Linked DNA regions of Homo sapiens. The protein of the gene in region 1 interacts with the protein of each later gene in a pairwise test. Each region holds a gene or a part of one and is shown on either strand. Other genes may lie near its edges. The genes, in order: ARMCX4 and KLK6.

What was found.
Region 2: the proteins of ARMCX4 (region 1) and KLK6 interact in binary tests that used the Homo sapiens proteins (3 or more experiments, as listed by UniProt).

What each region holds. Positions count from the first base shown.
Region 1 is NC_000023.11:101,483,947-101,488,375, forward strand, and holds the start of ARMCX4 (armadillo repeat-containing X-linked protein 4), read left to right. Parts: upstream 1-1,509; 5' UTR 1,510-1,584; intron 1,585-2,076; 5' UTR 2,077-2,146; exon of another isoform or gene 2,147-2,152; intron 2,153-3,246; 5' UTR 3,247-3,326; intron 3,327-3,661; 5' UTR 3,662-3,745; intron 3,746-4,061; exon of another isoform or gene 4,062-4,097; 5' UTR 4,098-4,153; intron 4,154-4,429.
Region 2 is NC_000019.10:50,959,282-50,963,091, reverse strand, and holds part of KLK6 (kallikrein-6 isoform A preproprotein), read left to right. Parts: intron 1-1,211; coding exon 1,212-1,348; intron 1,349-3,775; coding exon 3,776-3,810. UniProt on the Homo sapiens protein: Serine protease which exhibits a preference for Arg over Lys in the substrate P1 position and for Ser or Pro in the P2 position.

The DNA.
Region 1 (4,429 bases):
TTGGAGTATGACTCCTCAGCGGGGACAGGTGGATGCGTGGGGACTAACTTCTGCATATTTGGTCCCTGAGTTTTGGGATTATTCTGAGGGGCTTGTATGGGAGGTGCAGTGAAGTTGTAACACAAGGCAGGACATGAAAAAACTTCTTTTTCTTGGCAATTGCTTGGGATCCTGTACATTGCCCTTCCACTTGTGAGGGAAAAAAATAATGACACGGACATCAGGTGTGTTGCAGTGATTCACAGTCATCCACAGACCCTCACCACCATCTCCACTGGAAAATATTGAACACTCGCCACTGCTAGGGTAGTATGTAGTACATGAATGGCAGACACCGGCGAGATCTCAAGTGTTACGACGGATGAAAATTCCACCTGTTAAGTCTCCTTTCCATCCAAGCTCTAGCAGTTGGTTGTTCCATGGGTGTGGTGAGGCTGATCTGATTACATGCTTATGTAAAATCCAAATAAAGCCCCTTGAATGGAAAACAGGTTAATTTGGGAAGTCACTAGTAAAGCAGGTTAATTTGGTAAGTCACTAGTAAAGCACTAGGCTCATCAGGAGTTGGGTCTTAAATATATCCTCTAGAAGTCTTCTCTGAAGAAGGTCTTAGACACCTGAAAAAAGATGCTGAGTTCAGCCAGAACTTCAAAAGTTACAAATCACCTGTGTAAAATTGTCAATATTAGAAAACGAAATGTCTTTCCAAAGATTAACTTATAGATCATATTGAATACGTGCTGGTTTTGTTTAGGACAATTTTGTATTTAAAATGTCAAGAATTACTAGTCAATTTTGAAAGCTGTAAAATAGTTTGCAGTAACAGAAGACATTTTAAAATGTGGCACAAAATAATGTAAACAAAAGAATGAGTCTTTTGTTATTTTTACACCCTGAATATTTTTTGTGTCAAATGAAAATGGCTATACTGTATTTTCTGATTACAATATTAGAAAAGAATGTCATATTAAAAGAAAAAAAAGGAACACGAAAAAGAAAATTAAAGCTCTACTTGCACCTTCTGCTTTCCTTCCTGATACCCCCTTCCACAGCCCATTTGGTGCAGGCATTGTACTTAGAGAGGGCAGGTCGTGTAGGGGGCGGGTGGGGAGTGCTGGTCTTATAGTCTAAGAGAGAAATAAGTGATTACTCAAAGAAGAAACATAAAAGGCCACAGCCAAGGGCCGGGAGTGGGTAGGGGGATGCAGACCCTCCCCTGTAACTGAAGATGGGTAAACTCCAACCACAAGGCGATGATGCCACTTGTGGGCCCTCAGATTGGAGAGGACGGAGATGAGTGACAACGCGTGCGCACTGGGGCACCGAGCACAGACCAGAGAACGGGGATGTCTGTGCGTGCGGAGTGGAGGAGGGGGGAGTTCCTGGTGACTGGCCGCCGGCCCTTGGTGGGTGGTAGGGGGTGCTGGGGAGGAGGGCGAGCTCGGCGGTGACGCGCGGTCCTCACGTGACCCGGAGCTGCAGAGCTACGCAGCCTTCGTTGCAGTCGTCACTCGCATCTGGCTACCAGCTCCCCGCTGCCCTGCGCTCGGCGGGCTGGCATCGGGCCCGGGGAAAGCGGAGCAGGTAAGGGCCCTGGGGCCCGCGCGCCCTGGCCAGGCCGGCAGAAGCTCACTGACCCCGGCAGCGGTTACGGGGCTTGAGGGGGCGGTGGTCTATGCTGCCTCAAGTTCGAGGAGCCTTTGCCTCTGATTCTCCCTAGCCCCCTTGCCCCCGCCTACATCTGTGCAGGCGAACCGTGGGCTTTGATTTGTGGGGAGATTGTCTCTGCCAGAGGGAAATACAGAGATTGAGATGCCCATCGCTCTAATCACTGGCCACACATGTCCGCTCGCTTCCTGCTCAATTTAGTGGAAGGGATGCGCCACGGTGGCGTTTGCAGAGAAAATGGTGGGCCTTAGAGACTGGACGGTGGGGTTGGTAAGGGTGGTGTCTCAGACTGTGGGGAGGGACGTTTGATAACCAGGTTCCTGAACCCGGAAAGGCGAGTATTGGGATCTATGTCCTGGGCTCTAGACCAACACTAAGTGGTTTTACTCTCTCCTGTCTGTCGGACAGTAGTTCGGTGTAGCACTGTTTGCGGCGAGGAGAAAGGAAGGAGAGGAGAAAACTGCACTGGATCAAGGAGGTTAGTGTGAGTACAGACACTATCTAAACCATTGGAGTTCCATATGAATTCTATGACAGGAACTTAGGTGCGGCTGTCTGAATGGGATGTGGGGTGGGGCTAGCTTGGGGACTTTCCCTAAACTGCATTTTACTTACCAAGCTTAGGACTTTTAAATTGTATGTTGAAGACCAATGAAGACAGCAAACTTTTCTACAGATGCTTTTATTTGCATTTCAGATAATATTGAGAAAAAGATAAATTATATTAAAGAATATTATTATTATTATTATTTTTTAGATAGCCTTTGGTGGGGAAGGATAGTGATTTTGTAGAAGCAAAAGGCTTCCCCTATAGCTTTTCTCTTCTGCTGGAGACTCCTAGAGATAGGTTGAAAGGGACGTGGACAGCAGTAGGTTGTGGTTCTAGAGTATGGGATCTGGGGTCTCCCATCTCTCCTGCCATCCTTCAGTTTTCCAGATCCCTCTACCTACCTGACCATCTTGGTGAAGGAAATGGTGGGCTTTTGGGGAAATCCCTAGAACCCTACAGGTGGTTTTAAAATAATTTGCCTTGTTGGGCCTAGTAGCTCTTGCCTGTAATCCCAGCACTTTGAGAGACCCAAGCAAGAGGATTGCTTGAGCTCAGGTGTTCAAGACCAGCCTGGGCAACATAGCGAGACTTCATCTCTACATATAATTTAAAAATTAGCTGGGTATGGTGGCACAGTCTGTAGTTCCTGCTACTTGGGAGGCTGAGGTGGGAGGATCTTTTGAGCCTGGGAGGTCGAGACTGTGGTGAGCCATGATCTTGCCACTGCAATCCAGCCTGGGTGACAGAGTGGGGCTCTGTCTCAAAATAAATAAAAAATAAAATAAATAAAATAAAATAAAATAAAATAAAATAACGTGCCTCTGTCTGTTGCCTTTTACTTTTCCTGCCTCCCTTTTCCATCCTTCCCATTTCAGTGCTGGGGAAGCCCCAGGCTTTTTTTTTTTTTTTTTTCTGCCAGCAAATGGGTCTCTAAATCCAGGCAGGCAGGTACAGGGACCTATGTCTTAGATGGTAAGTGTCACAAGTACTTAACATCCACTCTCTTCTTTTTCTCCATCTGTTCCAAGGTCTTCCCATAGGCCTGCAGTAGGGCTGTTTACCATTGGAAGCAAGGGAAAGAGGAGGAGATCAATCTAGAAGCATGGAGGTTGGTGTGAAGTGGGGGTAGTCTCTGGGGATGACAAGAGAGGGTGGGCATAGGAGGTGGGTGAGATTTAAGAGGGTCTCAGTGGAGTGCTGGATTGCCACAGTGCTGCCATGCCTCCTGTGGATTTCAGTGCAGGAAATGATAGGAATATGGGGGTAAGGGTGGGCTGGAGTATGACTGGGGGAAGACTTGATGGGGGGACCATGAGATGGTACACATTAGTATATAGAACCTGGGCTCTGGCGAGGCAGACATTGGGGTCAGGGATCAGGTTGCTTGTCTGTTCTACCAGGGACTCGGTTTCCATTACCTACTGTTTGTTTACTTGTCCATAGATCTGCCTGCATGTCTGCTGCAGGGCTTAAGATCACTGGAAGCAAAGAAACAAAGAGGAGATTGCTCCTGATCAGTATAGACTGGTAAGAGTGTGGGGACTGCCTGGGTAGACCTCTAGAGTGGGTTGGTGGAGACCAGTGTGCATCCAGTAAGGACCAGTGACCAGTCTGGAGGATGAGGATCCTCAGTCTCTCCTTTTCCAGCCACCTTTCCCACCATCCCTGTCATTTACTCCATACCCTCACCTTAATTCTGGTACAGGGAAAAGAGTGTGACAGTGTCTTAGGGAGTGGGGTGGACTGAGAAACGTAGAAAGGTAGTTTGCTAATAATATGTCTGTCCCATCAAGAACAAACTCTCTACTCCCATCTGTCCCTCCATCTGTCTGTCTGTCTCTAGGTCCAGAGATCTCATGAATTTATGTATCTACTTTAGGGTGTACTGCCAAGAGAAGCAAGAGGAGAGGAGGGAACTGCCTCGGATCATTACAGGTTGGTATGAGGGTGGGGCCCTGTAGACAGGTGACCAGAGTAGGTCCAGTAGAAATCAAAGTCTGGGACTTCTTGGTTGCTCCCATTTATCGTCAGACCTCCTACCATCCTTTCCACTGTTCATTTGGTGTATAGAAATGTGTATAGAAGTATCTTGGAAGAAAATTATTGGGCATTGGGGAAGGTGGAGAGAAGATGAAATAAGAGGAATGGAGAGGCTGCTAATCATCCTCTCTTCCACCAAGCACATGGTTCTACCATTTTCTGTTCCTCTGT
Region 2 (3,810 bases), on another chromosome or scaffold:
AGACCAATGGGTGAATAGCATGGGAGAGATGGAACATAAGATGAAGGTTCAATAAAGAGGGAAGGTCAGTGGGGAGATGCTAATCAGGAAGGATGTCAAAGGTCAAAGGGGACTGATCAGGATTCATTGAACAGCAGGAAGGAATAATGGAGAAGGAACTGATGGAAGAAGAGAAACCAATAAAGCACAAAAGCCAACTGAAGGATGTGAATTGAGACAGTGAATGGGGGTATAGCTGATGGAAGAGGGACTAAGGGGAAAGGATCAATGGTCCAGAGGAGTCACTAGAGGAAAAAACAGGTCCAATAGATCAGCAGGATCCATGAAGGTGGGCCTGTGTGTGAAGGGCCAATAAGAAAGGTGAACCATTGGATGAAGGGCCAGTGGGAAGGCAGAGACAATGGGGGAGGATGCGGCAAGTTAGAAAAGGACCAATGAGGGAGGTGGACCATTGGATGAAGGGCTAATAGGAAGGGAGAGCCAGTGGGGGATGGTGAGGCCAGTTAGAAAAGGACCAAGGAGGGAAGCAGACCAATAGGAAGAGAGAGCCAATGAGGGAGGGCAGGGCCAGTTAGGAAAGGACCAATGAGGAAGGTAGACCATTGGAGGAAGGGCCAATAGAAAGGGAGGATCCATGAGGGAGGGTGGGGACAGTTAGAAAAGGACCAATGATGGAGGTGGACCATTGGATGAAGAACCAATAGAAAGGAAGAACCAATGGGAGAGGGCATGGCCAGTTAGGAAAAGACCAATGGTCACAGAGTGACCAATCAAGATGAATCAATGGGCAGGAAGTGTCCAATGAAGAATGGACTACTGATCAGGAGGGGTACAGTAGAGGAGGGCGTAACAGAGGAAGAGTCCTCCAGGTCAACTGAAACTACTGAAGAAGGTGGGACCAGTGGAAGAGAGAAAAGTGGAGGAGGGACCTAAGAGAAAAGGAAAACCAATAGGAAATGAGGACTCCTGGAGAAGAGACTATTAATGAGGAAGACAGCCAATGGGGGGGAAGAATGATAGAAAGAGGGACCAATTAGGAGGCAGGGACGATGGTAATGAGATGTAAGAATGAGAGACAAACAGGAAGAGGGGTGCCAATAGAAAAGAGGGACCAATAGAGGATGGAGGACTTATAGGGGTTGGGGGGTGACTGGGGAGGATGAGGGGAGTGCAAGGCCTGGGCTGAGTCTGGCCCATCTCTCCCCTAACAGGTGATTTCCCTGACACCATCCAGTGTGCATACATCCACCTGGTGTCCCGTGAGGAGTGTGAGCATGCCTACCCTGGCCAGATCACCCAGAACATGTTGTGTGCTGGGGATGAGAAGTACGGGAAGGATTCCTGCCAGGTGAGGTGACCCGGATCTGCCACTTACACAGCCAGGGACAGGACGAAGTCACAAAAACATGGCCAGACACAGGAAGAGAGAGACACAGGCCAAAAGAGAGCTTTACAGAGACAGATAGAGACAGGCTGAGGGAGAACCCAAGCCTTGAAAAGAAGAGACTTAGTTCAACACACAGAGACACAGTCAGGGATATGCAGAGATATAAAGACACAGCCAGCAGAGACAGGAAGTGCAGAGACAAGGATGGAGGCCGCGGGATCAAGAACCAGAGAGGCCAGGAGCAGCGGCTCATGCCTGTAATCCCGGCACTTTGGGAGGCCGAAGCAGGAGGATCACCTAGGGTCAGGAGTTCGAGACCAGCCTGATCAACATGGTGAAACCCTATCTCTACTAAAAATACAAAAATTAGGATGGGCACAGTGGCTCATGCCTGTAATCCCAGCACCTTGGGAGGCCGAAGCAGGAGGATCACCTGGGGTCAGGAGTTCGAGACCAGCCTGATCAACATGGTGAAACCCTATCTCTACTAAAAATACAAAAATTAGGATGGGCACAGTGGCTCATGCCTGTAATCCCAGCACCTTGGGAGGCCGAAGCAGGAGGATCACCTGGGGTCAGGAGTTCGAGACCAGCCTGATCAACATGGTGAAACCCTATCTCTACTAAAAATACAAAAATTAGGATGGGCACAGTGGCTCATGCCTGTAATCCCAGCACCTTGGGAGGCCGAGGTGGGTGAATAACCAGGTCAAGAGATTGAGACCAGCCTGGCCGATATGGGGAAACCTCATCTCTACTAAAAATACAAAAATTAGCTGGGCGTGGTGGCAGGCGCCTGTAGTCCCAGCTACTCAGGAGGCTGTGGCAGGAGAATCACTTGAACCTGGAGGCGGAGGTTGTTGCAGTGAGTCGAGATCATGCTACTGCACTCCAGCCTGGCAACAGAGCAAGATTCCGTCTCAAAAAAAAACCAAAAAACAAAAATTACGCAAGCATGGTGGGACACACCTGTAGTCCCAGCTACTCGGGAGGCTGAGGCTGGAGAATTGCTTAAACCCAGGAGGCAGAGGCTGCAGTGAGCTGAGATCACGCCACTGCACTCCAGCCTGGGGACAGAGCCAGACTCTGTCTAAAAACAAAAAGAACCAAAGAGAAGTAGTAAGGAAGCAGATGGTGTGAGGGGACTGTCCTTCCTCAAACAGAGCCCCCACGAGTCCTGCTCAGAAACGACCAGGCTCTGGAGGAGGGAGACACTAGCTGGGGAAAGGGGACTCCCTCCCGAATACTTTAACTTGGGTTTCCTCCATTGTCATCCATCCAGGCTCTCCTCTTTATGCCAGAATGACTAATGCACTGAGGGATGTGCAGAGACCAACCAAGGGGGAGACACAGGCAGAAACGGAGACACAGGCAGAAACAGGGACAGAGACAGGGAAAGCGATACATAGCAAGTTGGACGCAAAGAAAGGGCAGGTGGGCGAGACTGTCCTCAAGACACGAGGTGGAGAGGTGTCCCTGGACAGAATAGTGCCAGGCATATCTCTCCCTGGGCCCTCCCTACCTCTCCCACCTGGGTCTTATCGTCTCCTCCTCCCCCTCCTCCCCCTCCCCATCCTCCTCCCCCTCTCCATCCTCCTCCCCCTCCCCATCCTCCTCCCCCTCCTCCTCCCCCTCCTCCTCCCCCCTCCTCTCCCTCCTCCTCCTCGTCTTCCCCCTCCTCCTCCTCCTTCTCCTCTTCCTTCTCCTCTTCCTCCTCCTCGTTCTCCTCTTCCTCCTCCTCCTCTTCCTCCTCCCCCTTTTCCTCCTCCTCCTTTTCCTCCTCTTCTCCTCCTCTTCCTTCTCCTCCTCCTCTTCCTCCTCCTCCTCTTCCTCCTCCTCCTCTTCCTCCTCCTCTTCTTCCTCCTTCTTCTCCTCTTCCTCCTCCTCTTCCTCCTCCTCCTTCTCCTCTTCCTCCTCCTCTTCCTCCTCCTCCTCCTTCTCCTCTTCCTCCTCCTCTTCCTCCTCCTCCTCTTCCTCCTCCTCTTCCTCCTCTCCTTCTCCTCTTCCTCCTCCTTCTCCTCTTCCTCCTCCTCTCTCTCCATCGGTCTCTACACCTCTGCCTCTCTCCACACCTCTCAGTCTCCATTCTTAAATTGTTTCTCTTTCTTGCTCTCTATGTTCCTCTGCATCTTGGCATTCCTATCTCTGTGTCTTTGAGTCTCCTTTATTCTCTCTCTACCATTCTCTCTCTGTGCCTTTGTGTGTCTTACTGTCTCTCTCTCTGTCTCTCTGTCCCTGAGTCTTTCTCTCCATCTTTCAGTAAGTACCTCTGTCCCTTTCTACCTCTCTCTCTGTCACACACACACACACACACACACACACACACACACACACACACACAGTCTCTGGGTTTCTATCTGTATCTGACTTTCTCCCTCTTTCCTGCAGGGTGATTCTGGGGGTCCGCTGGTATGTGGAGACCA